2 linked regions of the Homo sapiens genome follow. The protein of the gene in region 1 purifies or fractionates together with the protein of each later gene. This does not show direct contact. Each region holds a gene or a part of one and is shown on either strand. Other genes may lie near its edges. The genes, in order: PHF13 and BLVRA.

The links.
Region 2: the proteins of PHF13 (region 1) and BLVRA purify together in Homo sapiens (affinity purification with mass spectrometry; one large-scale study listed by BioGRID and IntAct). This does not show direct contact.

What each region holds. Positions count from the first base shown.
Region 1 is NC_000001.11:6,616,568-6,620,382, reverse strand, and holds part of PHF13 (PHD finger protein 13), read right to left. Parts: intron 3,627-3,815; coding exon 3,525-3,626; intron 581-3,524; coding exon 46-580; intron 1-45. UniProt on the Homo sapiens protein: Modulates chromatin structure and DNA damage response by regulating key determinants of chromatin compaction and DNA damage response.
Region 2 is NC_000007.14:43,786,055-43,789,869, forward strand, and holds part of BLVRA (biliverdin reductase A), read left to right. Parts: intron 1-1,849; coding exon 1,850-1,971; intron 1,972-3,815. UniProt on the Homo sapiens protein: Reduces the gamma-methene bridge of the open tetrapyrrole, biliverdin IXalpha, to bilirubin with the concomitant oxidation of a NADH or NADPH cofactor. Does not reduce bilirubin IXbeta.

The sequences.
Region 1 (3,815 bases):
TAACCACAAGCCAACAAGGGTCATCATCCTTCAGGGACCACTCACCTGAGTCCACCATGATGTCCTCATCATTGCCAGTGCTGTCCTCATCTCGGAACACCACCTGCTTTCCCTGCCGGACGATAGTCCGTTTGCCTTCAGTTTTTATTTCTTTGACCTGATCAGGTGACACAGTGGCACAAGATCCACTCGAGGGAGTATCGGAGTCCCAGCCCGAGCAGGGGTCGCTGGGAGCCTGGGGGATATCCTGCAAGGTGGGACTCGTGGGGGTCTCCACGTAGGGGTCAGCGGCTTCCAGCTTCAGCAAGCCCCCCCTGTACCCCTCTTTCCCAGGCGCATCACTGTCCCTGCGCTTCCTCTTCTTCTTCTTCTTCAGCTTGTCCGTTTTCTTTCTGTCCAGCAGGAAGTTACTGGGCTTGGCTCGCTGCAAGAGAGTAGGCTGCAGGTGGCTAAAGCAGCGGTCAGAGACTGGCAAGGGCACTGAGGACGCGATGTCTGAGAAACCCGCGTCCCAGCCGTCGCTGTCAATGGTACCAGCAGTGCTGTTAGCAGGGCTGGGGCTGCTCCTTAAAGGGAGTTCCTAAAAAGACAAAGGTGGCAGATTCCAGTTACTGGTGACAAGATCCAGCCCAGAGCAGAGCATCCCCAGCCACCCAGCCATGTCAGACCTCCAGAGACATCTGCACAACTTTGAGCTTCTCTGCCCATCAGCATCACACTTGAAGCAACAGTAACATGAGTTCTGGCTGGGCGTGGTGGCTCACACCTGTAATCCCAGCACTCTGGGACGCCAAGGCAGGCGGATCACCTGAGACCAGGAGTTCAAGACCAACCTGGCCAACATGGTGAAACCCCATCTCTACTAAAAATACAAAAATTAGCTGGGCGTGGTGGTGGTGCCTGTAGTCCCAGCTACTTGGGAGGCTGAGGCAGGAGAATCGCTTGAACCCGGGAGGCAAATGTTGCAGTGAGCCACTGCACTCCAGCCTTGGTAACGGGAGGGAGATTCTGTGTCTCAAAAAAAAAAAAACCCAGTGCCATCAGTGCCATGAGTTTAATGTGATGCCACGAAGAGAGAAACTCCCTGCTGAACCCTCAGCCCCATCTTAGAGACAGAAAATTCATCAGTGTGCAACAGGTGTCTGTGGGAAGGAGTGCTGTGGACACCCACTCCTATCTGCTCATTGTTCCCTGATTGTAAAACCTCTCCTTCCATTTGCCCTCCCAAGAGATATATTGTTTTAAGTGAATTTAAATTAGTTTTGAGAATTTCCTGACACTCTTAAAAAACTAGACATTCCAAAATATTGCAGAATCCAAGTAGGTAATTACTGCCCCAAAGCAGTGAAGTAAACTCTATGGTTCATTCAGATCACAAGCATATCATTTGCAAACAGTGGCAACGTCCTCCTTGTCTTGCTAGAAAACAGGCATTAGGCTGGGTGCGGGGGCTCACACCTGTAATCCCAGCACTTTGGGAGGCTGAGGCGGGTAGATCACCTGAGCTCAGGAGTTCGACACCAGCCTGGCCAACATGGTGAAACCCCCTCTCTACCAAAAATACAAAAAAATTAGCTGTGCATGATGGCTGACACCTGTAATCCCAGCTACTTGGGAGGCTGAAGCAGGGAGAATTGCTTGAACCCAGGAGGCAGAAGTTGCAGTGAGCTGAGATCGCACCACCACACTCCAGCCTGAGCCACAGAGCAAGACTCCGTCTCAAAAAAAGAAAAAAAGAAAGAAAAGAAAGCAGGCATTAGCCACCTATGTAGCAGATGGAAATAAACCAATGCTGGCAGTTTGCCTGCTAGAAATATACTGAATGCAGCTGGGCACAGTGGCTCGTGCCTGTAAACCCAGCACTCTGGGAGACCAAGGCAGGAGCATCACTACCTCGAGACCAGCCTCAGCAACACAGTGAGACCTTGTCTCTACAAAAAATAAAATTACGGCCAAACGCAGTGGCTCACGCCTGTAATCCTAGCACTTTGGGAAGCCAAGGCAGGTGGGTCACTTGAGGCCAGGAGTTTGACACCAACCTGGGCAACATGGCGAAACCTTGTATCTACTAAAAATACAAAAATTAGGTGGGTGTGGTGGTGGGCCTGTAGTCCCAGCTACTTGGAAGGCTGAGGTGGGAGGATCACTTCAGCACAGGAGAAAGAGGCTGCAGTGAGCCAAGACTGTGCCACTGCACTCCAGCCTGGGCAACAGAGCAAGACCTGTCGCAAAAAAAAAAAAGCTGGATTGTTCAATTTTGAGCTTAATCGAATACGAAAGAGGCCTGAAGTCTGAGCACCACAGCCGCTCTCCTCCAGTCCTGCCCTGTTCTCAGCAAGTGAAAAAACCTCCTTCATCTACATCAAGTTGCAGCCATGAGTCCCTGAAGACAATCATACGCATTTCGGGCAGCCAGGGAGCTGAGACAGAGGCAGCGTGTGCACTGAGTCCAGCCATCTGGTTGAACCCCAAGCTCCACCACTAATCAGTGGGTGACCTAAGACAAAGTTTTCCCTCTCTATGCCTTAGTTTCCTCAGCTTATAAACTGGAGATAAAAAATAGCACCTACCTCATAGCATTACATAGGCCAAGAATAGTGTCCAGCTATGGTCAACAGTCAGTAACTACAGACCCTTATTAAAAGCAAGCAGACAGCCAGGTGCAGTGGCTCAACGCTTGTAATCCCAGCACTTTTGGGAGGCCGAGGCGGGTGGATCATGAGGTCAGGAGTTCGAGACCAGCCTCGACAACACGGTGAAACCCCGTCTCTAGTAAAAATACAAAAAACTAGCTGGGTGTGGTGGCGCGCCCAGCTACTCATGAGGCTGAGACAGGAGAATCGCTTGAACCCAGGAGGCAGAGGTTGCAGTGAGCCACAATTGCACCACGGCACTCCAGCCTGGGCGACAGAGCCAGACTCCATTTCAAACAAACAAACAAAAAGAGCAAGCAAATATCACATATTTTATTTGTAAATAAACTGAAAGTTTACTAAATCGGCTGGGCGGTAGCTCACGCCTGTAATCCCAGCACTCTGGGAGGCCGAGGCAGGTGAATCACCTGAGGTCAGGAGTTCGAGACCAGTCTGGCCAACAAGGTAAAACCCTGTCTCTACCAAAAATACAAAAAAGAATTAGCGTGGTGGCGCACGCCTGTCATCCCAACTACTGAGGAGGTTGAGGCAGGAGAATCCCTTGAACCCGGGGGTGGAGTTTTACGACACTGCACTCCAGCCTGGGCGACAGAGCAAGTTTCCATTCCAAAAAAAAAGAAAGTTTACTAAATCATTTTCTAGACAAGCCTGCATTTTCTACCAGAGTTTTTACCAGAGTTTTAGAACCATTTCCCCAGCTAATTCAAACTCTCAAGAAACAGATTTCTGCCAGACTAGTGACTGGGGTCACCACAAGCAGCCCCTTCCAAACCTACTGACCCTCTGACCAGTCAGAAGCCCACGAACTTGCGGTGGAGGCACTGGGTTTGACTACTCATCAAGAAAGGTCTCAGAAACTCAGAAGATTACCTCCTTCGGATAAGGGATGTAGCCAGCATAGGCCAAGACAAAGGTGCAGAATTTGTTGAAGTCTTCCACGGTCCTGCGCCTCTTGCAACTGGGGGAGTATTCCTATTAAGGGGAGAGAAAAGGGAATGTGTTTGAAGGAGAGGCTTCCAGGCGGAATCACAGAAACAAAAGGAAGTAAGCTGGAACTTTTGTAGTCAATCACTCAAAAAATACCGTTAGATTTACACAGTCCACAAACAAGATACGGTAAGTTCAGGTCAAGAAATAACACTATTTTCAGAGAGCAGAAAG
Region 2 (3,815 bases), on another chromosome or scaffold:
AAATTGTCTAAACGTTTCAACTAAAAGGCAGAGATTGTTAGACTGAGTAAAAAAAAGCAAGACCTAACTATATGCTGCCTATAAGAAACTAACTATAGCTATGAAAACACATATAGATTAAATGTGAAAGGTTGGGGAAAAAATGTATTATGCAACACTGATCAACAGAAATTGGGAATGGATTGTTAATATCAGACAAAATAAATTATAGGGCAAAAAATATTACCAGGAATAAAAATGGTCATTTTAGAAAGATAAAGGGGTCAATTAAAAAAAAGGACATAACCATCCTAAACTTGTATGTATCTAATAACAGAGTTTTGAAATATGTGGGTCAAAACTGATAGAACTGAAAGGAGAAATACACAGTTATATACAATTATATTCAGAGATTTCTCTACCCTCAATAATTGCTAGAGCAAGGAGACAGAAAATCAGGAAGGATACGAAGACCTGAACAACACAATCAACCAACTTGATCTAACAGACTTATAGAACACTCCACCCAACAATAGCAGAATACACATTCTTTTCAAGTGTGCCCAGAACATTAACCAAGGTAGACCACATCCCGTATCATAAAATATCTCAATAAATCTAAAAGGATTCAAATCATTTAAAGAATGTTCTCTGACCACAGTGGGATTAAATGAGAAATCAATAATAGAAAAACATTTGGCAAATCCCCAAACATTTGGAAGAAATCCTGGAAGGAGAAGACAAGAGCAGTGGGCACAGGAAGAGGGGCAGAGTCAGTGGGAAGTGGTGACAACTGGGTACAGAGGTGAAGAAAAGGGGCAAATCTGAGATGACATTCATGTTTCTATGCTCAGAGGCATCCAAGAAGTGAGTTTAAGGGATGCATGGAGATAATTTTTTTTTTTTTGAGATAGAGTCTCACTCTGTCACCCAGGCTGGAGTGCAGTGGCGCTATCTTGGGTCACTGCAATCTCCGCCTCCCAGGTTCAAGCAATTCTCCTGCCTCGGCCTCCTAAGTAGCTGGGATTACAGGCGCCTGCCAACAGGCCCAGCTAATTTTTGTATTTTTAGTAGAGACGAGGTTTCTCCATGTTGGCCAGGCTGGTCTGGAACTCCTGACCTCAAGTGATCCACCTGCCTCGGCCTCCCAAAGTGCTGGGATTACAGGCGTGAGCCACCGTGCCCAGTGCATGGAGATAAATTTTATCAGTTTTTATTATACTGAGTTGCTGTATAACTTAAAAGTCAGTTTGATTTTTCACTGTAATACTGTTCACATACAGCCTCCAGCAGTGCACTTAAATAATATTTAAGATACTGCAGTATCTTAAATGTGGAACTCAGAAGGCTGTAGTGAAGAGTCAAAGCCTCTGGATCCCACGCTGAGTAAGGTGACCAATCATGGTTTGCCCATTTGCCTCCTCTGCCAGCATCTGATGAAGAAGCTGTGCCCTCTGAATGACTCCCAGTAGTATCAGATTCATGTGTCCACTGGAGGAGGGACCCAGGGAGGGCAGAAGTACCAGGCCATGGGCTGGGTCTGGGTTAATGGGGAAAGCTCCCTCATTATTGGAGATGGGGCAGTAGAAGTGGAGAGCCAAATTGGGGGAACACTTTCTGTGGGTACTCGGAAGGTTTTCAACCTAAAGACATGGTGGAGCACCTTCAAGAACAGGTTTTGGCGGGACTGACTTCTCTCCAAGCCCCCATTTCGGGGACTGTCTCATCCCATCCTGATGCTGTGGCTTCCTGTGTGTTTTGGGCTGGCTTCCATCTTGCTCGTCGGGACCCTGCCAGCTCCTTTGTTTTGTAGTTTTCTGCTCGATGCCTACAGTGTTTTCAGACTCCACCTTGGTCCCTTGTGTTTCAGCCCGAGAGGAAGTTTGGCGTGGTGGTGGTTGGTGTTGGCCGAGCCGGCTCCGTGCGGATGAGGGACTTGCGGAATCCACACCCTTCCTCAGCGTTCCTGAACCTGATTGGCTTCGTGTCGAGGTGGCTCACAATGTCTTTGTGCTTCATAATTCATGGAAAGCCCAGTGAGGCGGATTAGCTGCAGGACATGGAGATTTTCCAGACCCAGGGCAGGGAGAGCCATCTCCCAACTGAGAACTGTGCTTAGGGTCAGCCCCATAAGATCTCAGGTTGGGATGGGTCTGGGAACTGAAGCTTGCTGGGCCTGCAGCTGGGATGCACAGTAGGTTGGCCTGGGAGACTGGAAGACAGAGGCAGGAGGGTGAGCTCAAGGCTGACAGTTAGAGAAGGGGCACAGAAAACACATGCATGGGGCTTTGGCCTGAAAGGCTTTCGGTGTGCACCGGGGAATCCTGACATAGTCATCATGACAGCCATCCTAGGTGGTCCTGGGCTCTACATGTGATATTTCCTTCTGCGTAGTGTTATTAACCCCCCAGTTTACAGATAAGGAGGCTGAACCACAGAAAGGTTAAGTAATCTGCCTGAGGTCACACAGCTGGAAAGTCTAAGAACTGAAGTTGAGCAGAAGTCTGTTTCCAAAGCCCATCTTTTAAACACCATGTGTTCTTTTGCCATTGGTAATTTTGAGCCTCACTTTTATTATTATTATTATTTTTTTTGAGACAGAGTCTCACTCTGTCACCCAAGCTGCAGCGCAATGGTGCAATCACAGCGCACTGCAGCCTTGACCGTCTGGGCTCAAGTGATCCTCCCGCCTCACAGCTCAAGTGGTCCTCCTGCCTCAGCCTTCTGAGTAGCTGGGACTACAGACACACACACCACCACGCCTGGATAATTTTTTTTTTTTTTTTGTAGAGACAGGGTCTCCCTATGTTGCCTAGACTGGTCTCAAACTCCTGGGGTCAAGTGATCCTCCTGCCTCGGCCTCCCAAAGTGCTGAGATTATAGGCGTGAGCCAGTGCACCCAGCCTCCCCCTTTTCTTTAAGGATTCATTTATCTCCAGTCAAAATCAAACTTATCACCTTGTTTCTTCTTCCCCCATGCTCAAATTTTCCACTCACCCCTGTACACACACACACACACACGCACCACTCACCAGACTAATCCTGTATAACATCATTTGTCAATATTAATTGTGAACTAGATACAGGCACCAGACTAATCCTGTGTAACATCATTTATCCATATTAATTTTGGACTAGGTGCAGGCACTGGGCTGGGCCTGAAGACATGGTAGTGAGCAAGTTAGGCAACTCTTTTTCTAGTGCTTTAGAGACATCAGATAAATATTTACACAAAGCATAAGTAACAATTGTGATAGTCTATGTAGAAATTTTTTCATGTTTTCATTCATGGGGCCATCCTCTTCCGGCCTGTCTCAAAACATGGCCCCACTTTTAAGGATTTAAAATGGGCTTGGAAGCACCAGGGAGACCCAGAAGTGCTAGAATCTGCCCTTGGGCCAGCCTTCTCCTCCCCATAAGATTCCAAGGGAGCTGCACACAAATGGGAGAGCAAAGTTAAGATCAGGCAGCACCGTAACCCCCATCGCACCCCTATCTGGAGCTGGGACCACACACAGCACTTGGGCGCAAGGCTGAAATGGGACCTTTCCTTTTCCCTTAAGCCCCAGTCCTCTGCCAGTTGGCTTCCAGGGTCAGCTCAGTGGGAACACCTACACTACCCAGGTTGTATGGGAGGATGGCCAGGTCACACCCCTGCATGACAGCCCTGCCAGTACTCACACTGTTTCCCTCTTCACATACCCTTCCCTTCCTGACCTACCTGCTAAGTTCTACCTCCTCCCCAGGAAGCTTTTCTGGTGTATTCCTTTCCCACCCTGAGTCTCCATCTCCTACTTCCAAGCACCACATTTCTCCTGGTAGTCTTGTGGTAGTGG